Linked DNA regions of Homo sapiens: region 1 is linked to region 2. A link means that fine-mapping ties the variant in region 2 to the expression of a gene that starts in the linked region. Tissue or cell type: uterus. Region 2 holds a variant in brackets; the other region holds the start of a gene. All regions are shown on one strand. Distances are from middle to middle.

The links. PIP is the estimated chance that this variant, and not a neighbour inherited with it, causes the effect.
Region 1: GTPBP10 starts here. The variant in region 2 is fine-mapped to the expression of GTPBP10 in uterus (GTEx, PIP 0.96).

The regions. Positions count from the first base shown.
Region 1 is chr7:90,343,324-90,351,426 of GRCh38, forward strand. It overlaps GTPBP10 (GTP binding protein 10), which reads left to right and starts at 3,393. Exons shown (of 10, transcript NM_033107.4): 1 at 3,393-3,451. The coding sequence starts at 3,419. The region is part of intron 1 of LOC107986715 (a long non-coding RNA gene); the gene reads right to left. LOC101927446 (a long non-coding RNA gene) reads left to right here. Exons shown (of 6, transcript NR_110085.1): 6 at 1-771. RefSeq lists enhancers at 2,859-2,998, 3,209-3,638.
Region 2 is chr7:90,232,653-90,240,763 of GRCh38, forward strand. It overlaps STEAP2 (STEAP2 metalloreductase), which reads left to right. Exons shown (of 6, transcript NM_001244944.2): 6 at 1-5,031. LOC107986819 (a long non-coding RNA gene) reads right to left here. Exons shown (of 2, transcript XR_007060423.1): 2 at 4,935-8,111. Among named protein-coding and RNA genes, the nearest start is that of CFAP69, 8.5 kb to the right of the region's middle. RefSeq lists a silencer at 1,908-2,113. The variant T/C (reference allele first, on the strand shown) is at 4,065.

The sequences.
Region 1 (8,103 bases), 110 kb after region 2:
CCTAGTATGTAAACCTCATTTGTTTGATCCATTTAACTTCATCATTTGGGAGATATAATGGTTCTCAGACTTGTAATATTTTGACGGCATGAAACAAATAATATTTGATTTGTTACATCTGAAGGATTATAAGGCTAATGAGTAAGAATAACTCGATGCTCCACTTCAGGTGATTCGTATGCTATAGGAGTTAGCAATCTAGTTCTTGTCTTTCGTTTGAATAAATTAACAAATATTCCTAGAGTATCTACTGATTACAAGGCCTGAGCCAGACGGACCTTGTTAGGGACTCTTGAACAAGCAGAACTAAAAGCATGATAGACAAAAGGTAGAAATCTAATTAAAAGCAGTTGAGATGATGACACAAGATCAATTGAAATAATCTGCAAAGCCCAGAATGAAGTTAGACACTTTTCATTTTAGTCTGCTGACAAAATTAAGCAATATAACATCACAAAATATTAGATTTGTTAATTATATATTTGTCTATTTTATGCTTAAGTGTATCTACATTAAATGTTAGATTAAATGCAATGTGGTGTTAGTATTAGACCCTGGAGTAAAGTCATAGGTGAAAAACCAGTGAAAGCAAATAGTCTGTAGTTTAGTTAATATTCTAGCAATATTAATTTTTTTAGTTTTGAAAAATGGTTATAAAAGATGTTAACATTCGGGCAAACTGGATAAAGATTACATGGAATCTCTTTTGGCTATTTTTGTAACTTCTGTAAATTAAAAAGTACTTCAAAATAAAATTATTTAAAATTGTAATTAGAACAACTCTATATTAAATTTTTTCATAACCCTCATTATTGTGTGTGTGTGTGTATATATGTATATATGTATATATGTGTATATATGTATATATGTATATATGTGTATATATGTATATATGTATATATGTGTATATATGCATATATATGTATATATGTGTATATATGTATATATGTATATATGTATATGTATGTATATATGTATGTGTGTATATATATGGTTTTGTTTTGTTTTTTTTTTTTTTTTTTTTGAGACAGAGTCTCTCTCTGTCGCCCAGGCTGAAGTGTAGTGGCGCTATCTCGGCTCACTGCAAGCTCCGCCTCCCAGGTTCACGCCATTCTCCTGCCTCAGCCTCCTGAGTAGCTGGGACTACAGGCGCCCACTATCACGCCCGGCTAATTTTTTGTATTTTTAGTAGAGACGAGGTTTCACCGTGTTAGCCAGGATGGTCTCCATCTCCTGACCTCGTGATCCACCCGCCTCGGCCTCCCAAAATGCTGGGATTACAGGCGTGAGCCACTGCGCCTGGCCTGTTTTAAAATATTTTTAAAACCAAATTGTGAGTCATGTCGATGGCTTATTTGGGACTTTATTCAAGACTCTTTAGTGCCACTGACTTTAATGGTTTGCCCATACATCAAACTGAGCAACCCTAAGGAGGCATTCTTTCCTCTTCATGGCAGAAGTAGTAGTATTTTCCAACAATGACTTCTGCCTTAGGTCTGAATAGTGTCCTAAACATTTTGCCTCATGTTCATTTTAGCTGCACATTTTAAAGGGGACAGTTTCCAGTTACACAATGTTTCTTTTACTATCTGGTAATGAGAGTTATAATAAATACTTCAGGCCCTGACCACATTTTGTCAGAGGTAAATATTATGCTTTCTTTTTTGTTTACAGTACACAATGATCCTCATCATTTTGAGATATTTCTATATCAATCTCCCATTTTTTTTTTTTTAGTTGCTGTGATCATTTCCCCATGTATATGTTATGTGAAAGAAAAGTATTTGAGATTGTGTTCACTAACAAGAAATAGGCATTGGAAAATAAGTACATTGGGCTCAACACTATTCTGACACAATAGGAAAACCTAGTAAGATAGTAATCTTAATGGCAGCAAATGTCATTAAATTAAAAACATCTACACAGCAACAACCTAATGTTCATATTAATGAGAGGTAGGAACACTGATAGTAATCAACATCTGTTGCTGGTGTTAATATTCAACATTAAAGTAATCCACAGAGGGAAAATACAACTACTGCAGGTTAAATGACAACTACAGCTTTTCTGATTGGTGGTTGTAAGCAGAAGGTCCAGTAGCAGCAAAGTAATCAAGACGGGGTTTTCACATCATGTCTTTCCAAATAATCACTGTCCTAAGTGAGGAGTAGAAGACACTGTCACATTGAGGTATTAGTCAGTTTTCACAGTGCCATAAAGAACTGCGCAGACTGGGTAATTTATAAAGGAAAGAGGCTTAATTGATTCACAGTTCTACATGGCTGGGGAGGCCTTAGAAAACTTATAATCATGGCAAAAGGGGAAGCGGAAACAAGCACCTTCTTCACATGGCAAGCAGGAGAGAGAAGAAAGAAGGAGGAACTTCCAAACACTTATAAAACCGTCAGCTCTTGTGGGAACTCCCTATCAGGAGAGCGGCAGGAGAGAAACAGCCCTGCATGATCCAATCACTTCCCTACTTCCACAATGGGGATTACAAATGAAGATGAGATTTGGGTGGCGACACAGAGCCATATCGTATCAAAGTATGAAAGGTTTCTAGGATTTATTAGTTTGGGTTGTTAAGAGTTATACGGCTGGCAACGCTGTGCAGGGCCGTTTACTTCAGCTGCATACATTTTTTCGCTGCATGAGGGGTTGGGGAGAGCTACTCTCTTCTGGTCCTGAAAAGTAATCAAGAGAGAGAGGGATTTTTCACATCGTGTCTTAATTCTCACAAAGGCACGCTTCAAATGACGGATAAAAACCCGTCTTCCCGACTCCAAGAAGCTACTTTCTGACAGTTGTAAACAAGCTTCTTTCTCTTACTGCACAGGAGAGTCCTCTTACAGATCTCAGATCCTGACATTATTTTCAATAAAACTTTGTGCGGCCGCTAGTTTTAAATTCATGGTCTCCTGGAAGCTTTGGCTGGAGACTACTCAGCTCGTCACTGAACTAACGGCTTTTGGGGGTTCTTTTTTCCCAGTTGAGTTTCTGTGTCTTTTACACGTTTGGTTTTATGGTCCGTTGGAGGTTTTTTCACGCTGAGGGTGAAGATTCTTAGTTTCCTCAATTAGCATAAAAGCTGCTCCAAGGCTGCTGAGTCTTCAGTTCCATTCCATTCAAAATGTTAATTCCTGAGACACGCAACCTACGCCCTACTGTCCTTTGTCCCACGGCTTCTCGAGATTATCTCTGTGTTTTAATAGATAAAACGCCTTCTCTCCCCACCCGTGGGGTGCAAAGCACAGCGCATGGGGCTGGTGGCGCCCGAGAGCATCACACAACGCATGCGCCAGTCCGCAGGTGTGGGCGGAGGAGAAATCGCGTCGGCGGCAGGGGATGACGTAAAAAGGCCGCGCTGTACTGCGGCTTGTGCCGCTTCCGCAAGAAGGTTTCCTGGCCTGTTGCAGCCATGGTGCATTGCAGTTGCGTGTTGTTCAGAAAGGTCCGTGCGGGTCCCCTCAGCCTGGTCCCCTTAGCGCTGACAGCTCTGGTTCTTCTTTGCTCCCCTGTCTCTCCACTACTGTCTTCGTGGCGGCCTTTTCCTTGCTTGGTTTTCCCATAGACTTCTCCGCCCCTCCTGTAGTGGCGCTTTGTCAGTAAGCGGTGACAGTGGTGTGTGTACCTGGCGTGGTTTGGACGGTTGTTTGGGGGCAGGGGCAGGGTTTGAAGTTCTTTAGAGACATAGTGTGCACGTGGTATGAGGAACTGGGATACCTGCCTGCTGTGGCCCAAATGTTGTGGTGGTTTTTTTTCCTTTAATGTCCACAGCCTGTTTTTATATATTTCTCCTTGAGTGCGCTGTTTAAGGTTTTTCTAATGGATTTTTATGAAGACACGAAAGCGTGTAATTGATGTGCCTTCCTGCAGAACATTTAGGTCGATTTTTGTGTGGTGTCGGTCTTAAGAATCGTTTCCGTAAAAATTTACAACTGCTTTGAATTTTTATTTTTTAAATCTTATCCTATCAGTAATGCTTTTTGAAACGTTGCCTGCGTCATATTTGGCCATTACTTTATTTCTAACGACCAGAGTAAAATACTCCTTTTAAGTAAGGCTCCTAAACCCCTGAATCTGATTAATCTAGAGCAGGAAAAAAGTGTTACATATTTAATGGAACTGTAGAAACTCTCCTCGAGTATATCAGAATGGTCAATATTTCAACTTTCTTGAAAAAAAAATCCCATTTGTTTTTTATAATAGCTATCCTAAATGACTAGAGATGTGGATTATGAATTTAAGAAATTACTCCTTAAGTTATTTTGATTTTAATAGCCTAAGAGGTTAATACGTAAGTCCTTTACCTACAAGAAGTTCTTGATTTAGTGAAGGAAACAGGTAAACACTAAATGCAGCGTGAGATTTATAAAGGTGTAATAATAGAGATATAATCAAATTGCTGGGAGAGCCAGCAAAGTCAGAGAATTGATTAGAGGAATTTGGAAAGACGTTAGAAAATATGACGTTTAGGTGGATTTATGATAGGAAAAACAAATGACATTCTAAGTAGAGGAAAAGCATGAGCAGAATGGCATGTAGAAATGGCGGTATTTCATGTAGTACAGAGCAAAGAGGAAGAGAGGAAGGGTTGAGCAAGTGAAAAGGATACAGGAAGGAACTAGGCATGGTAGGTGAGCCTATTGTTCTTGCTACTTGGGAGGCTGAGGTGGGAGGATCCCTTAAGGCCAGGAGTTCAAGACCAGTCTGGGCAACATAGCAAGACCCCATCTTTAAAACAGTCGGGGTGGTGTGGTGCCTGTAGTCCCAGCCATTTGGGAGGCTGAAGTGGGAGAATTGCTTGAGCCCAGGAGTTTGAGGCTGCAGCAATGATAGTGCTATGATAGTGCCACGGCACTCGAGCCCAGGCACCAGAACCAGACCCTGTTTCAAAAAAAAGAAAATAAAAGATACCAGAAGGGTATTTTAGTAGCTTTGGATATACAGTTGACCCTTCAAGAACATGGGGGTTAGAGATGCCCCCGCCACAGCTGAAAATCTTCATGTAACTTTCAACTCCCCCCACAAAACAACTACTAATAATCTGTTGGCTGGAAGCCTCACTGATAACATAAGCCGTCAGTTGACACATATAAAATATATATATAGTATATACTGTATTCTTAAATTAAGCTAGAGAAAAGAAACAGTTACTAAGAAAGTCAGAAAGAAGGGAAAATATATTTACTGTTCATTAAATGGAAGTGAATTGTAAAGGTCTTCATCCTTATAGTCTTCATGTTGAATAGACTGAGGAGGAAGAGGAGGAGTTGGTCTTGCTCTCTTGGGTGGCAGAGGCAGAAGGGGTGGGGGTGGAGGAGGTGGAAGGGGAGGCAAGAGAGGCAGACACACTATGTGTAACTTTATGGAAGTACATCATAATTTCTGTCATGCTTTTGCTTTTCTCTTTCCCCCAAAAAAATGTTTCTATAGGGTACCAATACCTCTTCCACCATTTGCTTTGGTTTCAGTGCCTCTTCACAGAAGGGTCCATGTCATAAAAGAAGTCAAAAGCAGTCCTGAACAATAGGAGCTCTTCTGCCAGATTATCTAATGTTCGTTTTTCTGGTAGTTTATTCTGTGTTTTCTTCCTTGTTATCTGGCACTGGATCTGAAGCACTCATCAAGCTGTCTTCTGTTAATTCCTCTGGTTTGGTGGCTGTTAGCTCTTGAGTTTCTTCAAGATCCATATCTTGAAGTCCTTTACCCACTTTCCCGCCGTTTTTGGCATATTCACAGCCTCTTTCATGATTTCCTTGATTGGCTCTTTTGTAAATCCTGTGAAATTATAACACAACACAACACCTGGACAAAGTTTTCTCCAGCACGAACTTACTGTTTGGGGCTTATGGCTTTCATGGCTTTTTCAATAATAATGGCATCTTCAATTATGTAAACTTCAGATTTTCCTGAAGTTTTCTCTATTAGTGTTCTTTTCCATGGTTGACAATCCTTTTCGTAGAAAATCATGTTTAATGAGCCTTAAAGGTCCTTGCGACCCCGTGATCTAGAGGCTGATTTACAGACATTGTGTTTGGGGGCAAGGACACCACTTCAGTGCCTTTGATGTTGAACTCATGGGGTTCTGGGTAGCGGGGAGGTGGGGCACTGTCCATTAGCAGAGGAACTTTACAAGTCAGTCTCGTATTGGGAAGGTACTTCCTGACTTCAGGGAGAAAGCATCCATGGAACCAATCCAGAGAAAAGGTTTTTGTTCTCTAGGCCTTCTTATCCAACAAAGACTGGCAGCTGATGTTTATCTTTCCCTTTCAAGATTGAGGGGTTAGCAGCTTTATAGATAAGGACAGTCCTGATTACAAACACAACTGCATTTGCACAATACAGTAGGGTTAGCCTATCCCTTCCTGGCTTAAATCCTGGTGCTCCCTTCTCTTCCTTACTAATGTCTTTTGTAGCATGTTTTCCAGAATAGGGTACTTTCATCAGCATTAACAACCTGATTTGGGAGATATTCTTTCGTCTCAGTGATTTTCTTAATGGCATCTGGGAACTCATCTGCTGCCTCTTAGTTGGCAGAACCTGCTTCACCTGTTATCTTGATATTTCTAAAGCCAAAGCCAAACCTATTTCTTCTTTTTTTTTTTTAAATTATACTTTAAGTTCTAGGGTACATGTACACAGCGTGCAGGTTTGTTACATAGGTATACATGTGCCATGTTGGTTTGCTGCACCCATTAACTTGTCATTTACATTGGGTATTTCTCCTAATGTTATCTCTCACCCAGCCCCCAACCCCATGACAGGTCCCAGTGTGTGATGTTCCCCCCGTGTCCCAAGTGTTCTCATTGTTCAGTTCCCACCTATGAGTGAGAACATGTGGTGTTTGGTTTTCTGTCCTTGTGATAGTTTGGTCAGAATGATGGTTTCCAGCTGCATCCATGTCACTCATCCTTTTTATGGCTGCATAGTATTCCATCGTGTATATGTGCCACATTTTCTTAATCCAGTCTATCATTGATGGACATTTGGGTTGGTTCCAAGTCTTTGCTGTTGTGAATAGTGCCACAATAAACATACGTGTGCATGTGTCTTTATAGTGGCATGATTTTTAATCCTTTGGGTATATATCCAGTAATGGGATGGCTGGGTCAAATGGTATTTCTAGTTCTAGATTCTTGAGGAATCTAGAACTGTCTTCCACAGTCAAACCTCCTTCTAAAATTATCAAATCATCCTTTGCTGGCAATTAATTCTTTAGCTTTAGATCCTTCACATTCCTTTTGCTTTTAAGTTGTCATATGGTAACCTTACTTTTTCTTTTATTGTATTAGTCTATGTTTTTAAAATAGGAATCCTGCATCTACATAAAAGTTGCCTTTTTAATACAAGATAAAAAGTTAATTCACAAAAAGTGCAAGGTTTTCACACCTTTTGGCATAGCTGCTGCAGTGGCTTCATGAATTTTTGTCTTTTTTTACACTGATTCTTATTCTGGATTCATTTATCTTGAGATAGCAGGCCATCGCAGCTACAGATTTTAATCTGTGGTAGATATCAAGCAATTCATCTTTTTATCGTAGTGTCATGACTTTACTTCTTGGGAGCACTGCCAGCATCACTAGTGGCACTTTGTATGGGTTCCATGGTGGTGTTCAAGGTTTACAGTGTAGCGCTGAACATGATGAAAAATGCAAGAGAACTGTGAGAGATTACTTTTTACTGACTTATAAAATGTACTGGCAAGATGAACTGCTCATGGGGAGACGATTAGCATCACATGGCCTTTTAAGTGGCAACTTGGGACACTTGAGATCCCGGGATAGTTACAGGAGGTAACTACGAAATTATTACAGTATTCCACGATGTACTACAGTTAATTTTATGCAGTTATGATTTAATACTGCATTTTTACATTTGCTTACATTTCTCTTGACTGCAAATGCTGCCATGTAAGATCTGTAAGTGTGTGTGTAAGTTTTGATAAATTTTAAGTTTTTATAATAGATGTGTGGCCAGGTGCAGTAGCTCATGCCTGTAATTCCAGCACTTTGGGAGGCCAAGGCAAGAGGATTGTTTGTGGCCAGGAGTTTGAGACCAGCCTGGGCAACATAGCAAAACCCCATCTCTAGTTTTTAAAAA
Region 2 (8,111 bases):
AAAGTTCTACTCATGCCATTATTTTTATGACTTCTACGTTCAGTTACAAGTATGCTGTCAAATTATCGTGGGTTGAAACTTGTTAAATGAGATTTCAACTGACTTAGTGATAGAGTTTTCTTCAAGTTAATTTTCACAAATGTCATGTTTGCCAATATGAATTTTTCTAGTCAACATATTATTGTAATTTAGGTATGTTTTGTTTTGTTTTGCACAACTGTAACCCTGTTGTTACTTTATATTTCATAATCAGGCAAAAATACTTACAGTTAATAATATAGATATAATGTTAAAAACAATTTGCAAACCAGCAGAATTTTAAGCTTTTAAAATAATTCAATGGATATACATTTTTTTCTGAAGATTAAGATTTTAATTATTCAACTTAAAAAGTAGAAATGCATTATTATACATTTTTTTAAGAAAGGACACGTTATGTTAGCATCTAGGTAAGGCTGCATGATAGCATTCCTATATTTCTCTCATAAAATAGGATTTGAAGGATGAAATTAATTGTATGAAGCAATGTGATTATATGAAGAGACACAAATTAAAAAGACAAATTAAACCTGAAATTATATTTAAAATATATTTGAGACATGAAATACATACTGATAATACATACCTCATGAAAGATTTTATTCTTTATTGTGTTACAGAGCAGTTTCATTTTCATATTAATATACTGATCAGGAAGAGGATTCAGTAACATTTGGCTTCCAAAACTGCTATCTCTAATACGGTACCAATCCTAGGAACTGTATACTAGTTCCTACTTAGAACAAAAGTATCAAGTTTGCACACAAGTAATCTGCCAGCTGACCTTTGTCGCACCTTAACCAGTCACCACTTGCTATGGTATAGGATTATACTGATGTTCTTTGAGGGATTCTGATGTGCTAGGCATGGTTCTAAGTACTTTACTTGTATTATCCCATTTAATACTTAGAACAACCCCGTGAGATAAGTAGTTATTATCCTCATTTTACACATGAGGGACCGAAGGATAGAAAAGTTATTTTTCAAAGGTCTTGCAGTTAATAAATGGCAGAGTGAGCATTCAAGTCCAGGTAGTCATATTCCAGAGGCCACGGTTTTAACCACTAGGCTCTAGAGCTCCCGCCGCGCCCCTATGCATTATGTTCACAATGCCAATCTAGATGCTTCCTCTTTTGTATAAAGTCACTGACATTCTTTAGAGTGGGTTGGGTGCATCCAAAAATGTATAAAAATATTATTATAATAAACTTATTACTGCTTGTAGGGTAATTCACAGTTACTTACCCTATTCTTGCTTGGAACATGAGCCTGGAGACCCATGGCAGTCCATATGCCTCCCTATGCAGTGAAGGGCCCTAGCAGTGTTAACAAATTGCTGAGATCCCACGGAGTCTTTCAAAAATCTCTGTAGAGTTAGTCTTCTCCTTTTCTCTTCCTGAGAAGTTCTCCTGCCTGCATAACCATTCATTAGGGAGTACTTTACAAGCATGAAGGATATTAGGGTAAGTGGCTAATTATAAATCTACTCTAGAGACATATAATCATACAGATTATTCATAAAATTTTTCAGTGCTGTCCTTCCACATTTAATTGCATTTTGCTCAAACTGTAGAATGCCCTACATTCCCCCCACCCCAATTTGCTATTTCCTTATTAAAATAGAAAATTATAGGCAAGATACAATTATATGCGTTCCTCTTCCTGAAATTATAACATTTCTAAACTTACCCACGTAGGTACTACTGAATCCAACTGCCAACAATAAAAAGACTTTTATTTAGTAGAGGCTACCTTTCCCACCAGTGACTCTTTTTCTACAACTGCCTTGTCAGTTTGGTAATTCACTTATGATTTTCTAATGTTCTCTTGGTGAATTTTATTATCTTGTACCCTCTTTTTTTTTTTTTTTTTTTTTAAAGACAGAGTCTTGCTCTGTCACCCAGGCTGGAGTGCAGTGGCACGATCTCGGCTCACTGCAAGCTCTGCCTCCCGGGTTCACGCCATTCTCCTGCCTCAGCCTCCCGAGTAGCTGGGACTACAGGTGCCCGCCACCATGCCCGGCTGATTTCTTTTTGTATTTTTAGTAGAGACGGAGTTTCACCGTGTTAGCCAGGATGGTCTCGATCTCCTGACCTCGTGATCCGCCCGCCTTGGCCTCCAAAGTGCTGGGATTACAGGTGTGAGCTACCGCGCCCGGCCTATTATCTTGTACTTTCTAACTGAGCCCTCTATTTTCTTTATTTTAATAATATTTCTCCCCACTTGAGAATCACTTGTTAGTTCTTGGTAGGAATTCAGTTGGGCAATGATAACTTTTATGGGCAAAAACATTCTATTATAGTGAACTAATGAAAATAACAGCGTATTTTCAATATTTTCTTATTCCTTAAATTCCACTCTTTTAACACTATGCTTAACCACTTAATGTGATGAAATATTCCTAAAAGTTAAATGACTATTAAAGCATATATTGTTGCATGTATATATTAAGTAGCCGATACTCTAAATAAAAATACCACTGTTACAGATAAATGGGGCCTTTAAAAATATGAAAAACAAACTTGTGAAAATGTATAAAAGATGCATCTGTTGTTTCAAATGGCACTATCTTCTTTTCAGTACTACAAAAACAGAATAATTTTGAAGTTTTAGAATAAATGTAATATATTTACTATAATTCTAAATGTTTAAATGCTTTTCTAAAAATGCAAAACTATGATGTTTAGTTGCTTTATTTTACCTCTATGTGATTATTTTTCTTAATTGTTATTTTTTATAATCATTATTTTTCTGAACCATTCTTCTGGCCTCAGAAGTAGGACTGAATTCTACTATTGCTAGGTGTGAGAAAGTGGTGGTGAGAACCTTAGAGCAGTGGAGATTTGCTACCTGGTCTGTGTTTTGAGAAGTGCCCCTTAGAAAGTTAAAAGAATGTAGAAAAGATACTCAGTCTTAATCCTATGCAAAAAAAAAAATCAAGTAATTGTTTTCCTATGAGGAAAATAACCATGAGCTGTATCATGCTACTTAGCTTTTATGTAAATATTTCTTATGTCTCCTCTATTAAGAGTATTTAAAATCATATTTAAATATGAATCTATTCATGCTAACATTATTTTTCAAAACATACATGGAAATTTAGCCCAGATTGTCTACATATAAGGTTTTTATTTGAATTGTAAAATATTTAAAAGTATGAATAAAATATATTTATAGGTATTTATCAGAGATGATTATTTTGTGCTACATACAGGTTGGCTAATGAGCTCTAGTGTTAAACTACCTGATTAATTTCTTATAAAGCAGCATAACCTTGGCTTGATTAAGGAATTCTACTTTCAAAAATTAATCTGATAATAGTAACAAGGTATATTATACTTTCATTACAATCAAATTATAGAAATTACTTGTGTAAAAGGGCTTCAAGAATATATCCAATTTTTAAATATTTTAATATATCTCCTATCTGATAACTTAATTCTTCTAAATTACCACTTGCCATTAAGCTATTTCATAATAAATTCTGTACAGTTTCCCCCCAAAAAAGAGATTTATTTATGAAATATTTAAAGTTTCTAATGTGGTATTTTAAATAAAGTATCATAAATGTAATAAGTAAATATTTATTTAGGAATACTGTGAACACTGAACTAATTATTCCTGTGTCAGTCTATGAAATCCCTGTTTTGAAATACGTAAACAGCCTAAAATGTGTTGAAATTATTTTGTAAATCCATGACTTAAAACAAGATACATACATAGTATAACACACCTCACAGTGTTAAGATTTATATTGTGAAATGAGACACCCTACCTTCAATTGTTCATCAGTGGGTAAAACAAATTCTGATGTACATTCAGGACAAATGATTAGCCCTAAATGAAACTGTAATAATTTCAGTGGAAACTCAATCTGTTTTTACCTTTAAACAGTGAATTTTACATGAATGAATGGGTTCTTCACTTTTTTTTTAGTATGAGAAAATTATACAGTGCTTAATTTTCAGAGATTCTTTCCATATGTTACTAAAAAATGTTTTGTTCAGCCTAACATACTGAGTTTT[T/C]TTTAACTTTCTAAATTATTGAATTTCCATCATGCATTCATCCAAAATTAAGGCAGACTGTTTGGATTCTTCCAGTGGCCAGATGAGCTAAATTAAATCACAAAAGCAGATGCTTTTGTATGATCTCCAAATTGCCAACTTTAAGGAAATATTCTCTTGAAATTGTCTTTAAAGATCTTTTGCAGCTTTGCAGATACCCAGACTGAGCTGGAACTGGAATTTGTCTTCCTATTGACTCTACTTCTTTAAAAGCGGCTGCCCATTACATTCCTCAGCTGTCCTTGCAGTTAGGTGTACATGTGACTGAGTGTTGGCCAGTGAGATGAAGTCTCCTCAAAGGAAGGCAGCATGTGTCCTTTTTCATCCCTTCATCTTGCTGCTGGGATTGTGGATATAACAGGAGCCCTGGCAGCTGTCTCCAGAGGATCAAAGCCACACCCAAAGAGTAAGGCAGATTAGAGACCAGAAAGACCTTGACTACTTCCCTACTTCCACTGCTTTTTCCTGCATTTAAGCCATTGTAAATCTGGGTGTGTTACATGAAGTGAAAATTAATTCTTTCTGCCCTTCAGTTCTTTATCCTGATACCATTTAACACTGTCTGAATTAACTAGACTGCAATAATTCTTTCTTTTGAAAGCTTTTAAAGGATAATGTGCAATTCACATTAAAATTGATTTTCCATTGTCAATTAGTTATACTCATTTTCCTGCCTTGATCTTTCATTAGATATTTTGTATCTGCTTGGAATATATTATCTTCTTTTTAACTGTGTAATTGGTAATTACTAAAACTCTGTAATCTCCAAAATATTGCTATCAAATTACACACCATGTTTTCTATCATTCTCATAGATCTGCCTTATAAACATTTAAATAAAAAGTACTATTTAATGATTTAACTTCTGTTTTGAAATGTTGTATACACGTGGATTTTTTTCTCATTAAATAATAATTCTAGTATTTGATGGAGGCCTTCTAATACTTTTCTGAGTTATTTCTTTTCAGAAGCATCCAGAAAGCAATACATGTGATAGTTATGGAGGGGTTTTGTTTGTTTTTACTAAAATAGTCATTTAGAAAAACCTCCATTTACATTTATTTTATTACATTATTTCATTTTACTAGCATTCATTAAGCATCTTTAAATCAGAACACACACAATATTCAAGCTATTCTGTAAACTCCCCGTAGCAGAAATTTTGTCTTATTTACTACTAAATCCCCAGTATCTAGTATAATGTGATCTATGATGGATACTAAAGAGATATTATAATAAATAATTACCCATTTTTACAGAAAATTATGTTTTTTATCATCCCGCATCCATGCAGCCATGCCTACATCCTCTTGCCTCTTCCTCATGCCTTGCCTCCTGGCCAGTGGCCTAGCGCTACCCTGTTGTCCTAAAGAGTTTCTGCTGCTGCTGCCACTACCACCACCACCACACTGCTATATGTTGAGGAGTCCTGTACACTGTGCCACTGACAAGGAGTAACTGACCTTTGTGCCTGTGCACCAGATCTGTCTGTGGAGGTTCTGGCTTCCCCAGCTGCTGCCTGGAAATGCTTAGGTGCTAATATCCTGAGAGGAGGATTGTCAGGTAAAATACAGGACTCTCAGTTAAATTTGAATTGCAGACAAACAATAAATTACTTTTTATTATAAGCATGGGCTTTTTAAAATTTTTCTAAATCTGGCAACCCTACTTAAGGAGTGAACTTTGATCAAGGAGGTACAGCACAAAATGAAGCTAGTAGATAAATTCTCCCTTCCTTTCCCCCAGATAGGCTGTTCTAAAGTGCAATAATTCATAAGACCTTCATGAAAATATCCTCAAAGACCGAGCAATTAACTGCACTTGTTGCAAAGCTATGACAAGCTCACTAACACCTGTGTTTGTGTTCCCTTCTCCTACTGCCTCACTTCCATGTTTTTCCTCACTTCTGTTTCTCAGAGATAGTACTCCCCATAGAGTGGCAGCAGGTGAGTGTTGGTGTTGTTTGTTTATGGCAGGCTTGGGGAACCTAGACTAGTACAGTACTTTTGGTAGTGGATTCTTCTAATGGGAAGTGAAACAAGAGACAAATGATGACTTTGAGAAAGTCAGGCACGGGACCCTGCAGACTCAAAATCCAGATTTGTTGAGACCCCTGAGAGTAGAAAAACCCCTCAGGGGCAGATTCACATTGATCAAATGTACAGTCATACACTGTTAAATCAAAATAGTAACTCAGCACTACTGTGTGAAATATCAGTGTCCTGTAGGCGAGAATACCATTTGTGCCTTGATTAAACATACTTTATTCTTGAATCTGCTGTTTATAAGAATTGAAGTTATAATTCAAAAGATACTGGGATCTGTTATGGGCTGAACTGTGTTTCCTCAAAATTGATACATTGAAATCCTAACTCCCACACTACCTCAGAATGTATTTGGAGATAGGATCTTTAAAGAGGTAAAGTGAGGTCATACAGTTGGGCCCTAATCCAGTATGACTGGTGTCCTCATAAGAAGAGGAGATTAGGAATCAGGCATGCACAGAGGGAAGACCACGTGAAGTAAAAGGGAGAAGACGGCATGCCAAGGAGAGATGCCTCGAGATGAAACCAATCCTGCCAACACCTTAGTCTTCAACTTCTAGCCTCCAGAACTGTAACAAAATAAATTTCTGTTGTTAAAGCCACCCAGTCTGTGGTATTTGTTACAGCAGTCTTCAAAAACTAATACAAGGTTCATAGAATCAAAACAAGTCAATTTAGATATAGAACTCAAATAATTAATGTCATTGGAACAAACCTGTCTGATTAATCTTGCTCCACAACAAAGACAGTTCTATCCTGGGGTTATTGCACTATAACTACCCACCATTTAAACACAATAAATAGTTGTTCTAAAATCTCGGGAACATTTTTTTTTCATATAATTATTCCCATGTCATGGAACTGAAGCTTTGGGTAAAAGCGCTTTATAAATTCTTCTTTTAATTTTTTTTACTTTCAATTTGTTTACTTTTCCACTAAACACGAGTAGTTCCTGCAGCTTCCTACTTAAAAATCACTTGCAGTTTGGGTTATTGTTAGTATACTTTTCATTAGAATGGTTGTCTTCAGGGGTGACTATTCTTTTACTTTCGTTTTCTGTTCCACGTGCTTATTCTTCCCAAATGTACATTAATGATTCTGTTGGAAAGAGGTAATTACTTTTGTTTTGTTTTTAGGCTTTGTTTCTGTGCTGTCAACCTGAAAAAGTTTTTTAAAACAGTGAAGTATAGGCTGGGAGCGGTGGCTCACGCCTGTGATCCTAGCACTTTGGGAGGCCAAAGTGGGCAGATCGTTTGAACCCAGGAGTTCAAGACCAACCTGGGCAATATGGTGAAACCCCATCTCTACAAAAAACAACAAAAATTAGCCAGACACGGTGGCACACACTTGTAGTTCCAGCTGCTCGTGAGGCTAAGGTGGGAGGTGGGAGGATCACCTGAGCCCAGGGAGGTCAGGGCTGCAGTGAGCAGAGATCACGCCACTGCACCCCAGCCTGGGTGACAGAGTGAGACCCTGTCTCAAAAAAAAAAAAAATTAAGTATAATAAATTCTGGTTTTGTATGCATTTCTTCTCTTACAGAATTTCCCTAAAGCTAACCTACTAAAAACTATGACTAGATTTCATATGTGCTATAAACATTCTTTATTTAAAATAAATTACTCTAATTCAGAAAGGAATAACATTTGCTTGCACATTTAGAACATCTGGCATTAGAGACTATAAAATTCATATATAGTCTCAAATACTTATTAGACATATTCTTAATTCAAGAATATATAATTATTCATATGATTAGAAATAATTATAATTTTACTAAACATTGCTAATTAGGCAGAGTACAAACAAGAAAAAGTCAGAAGGAAAATAGAACCACAATTTGCAATATATTTATTTTAAAACATTTTTAGCTTTCTTTGTTACTTTTAAAAGTAAAACTTGTAAGTCAATATATTATTAAAACTACTAGTTAATCTTTAAGTCTACAGGTGCTACTAAGAAATT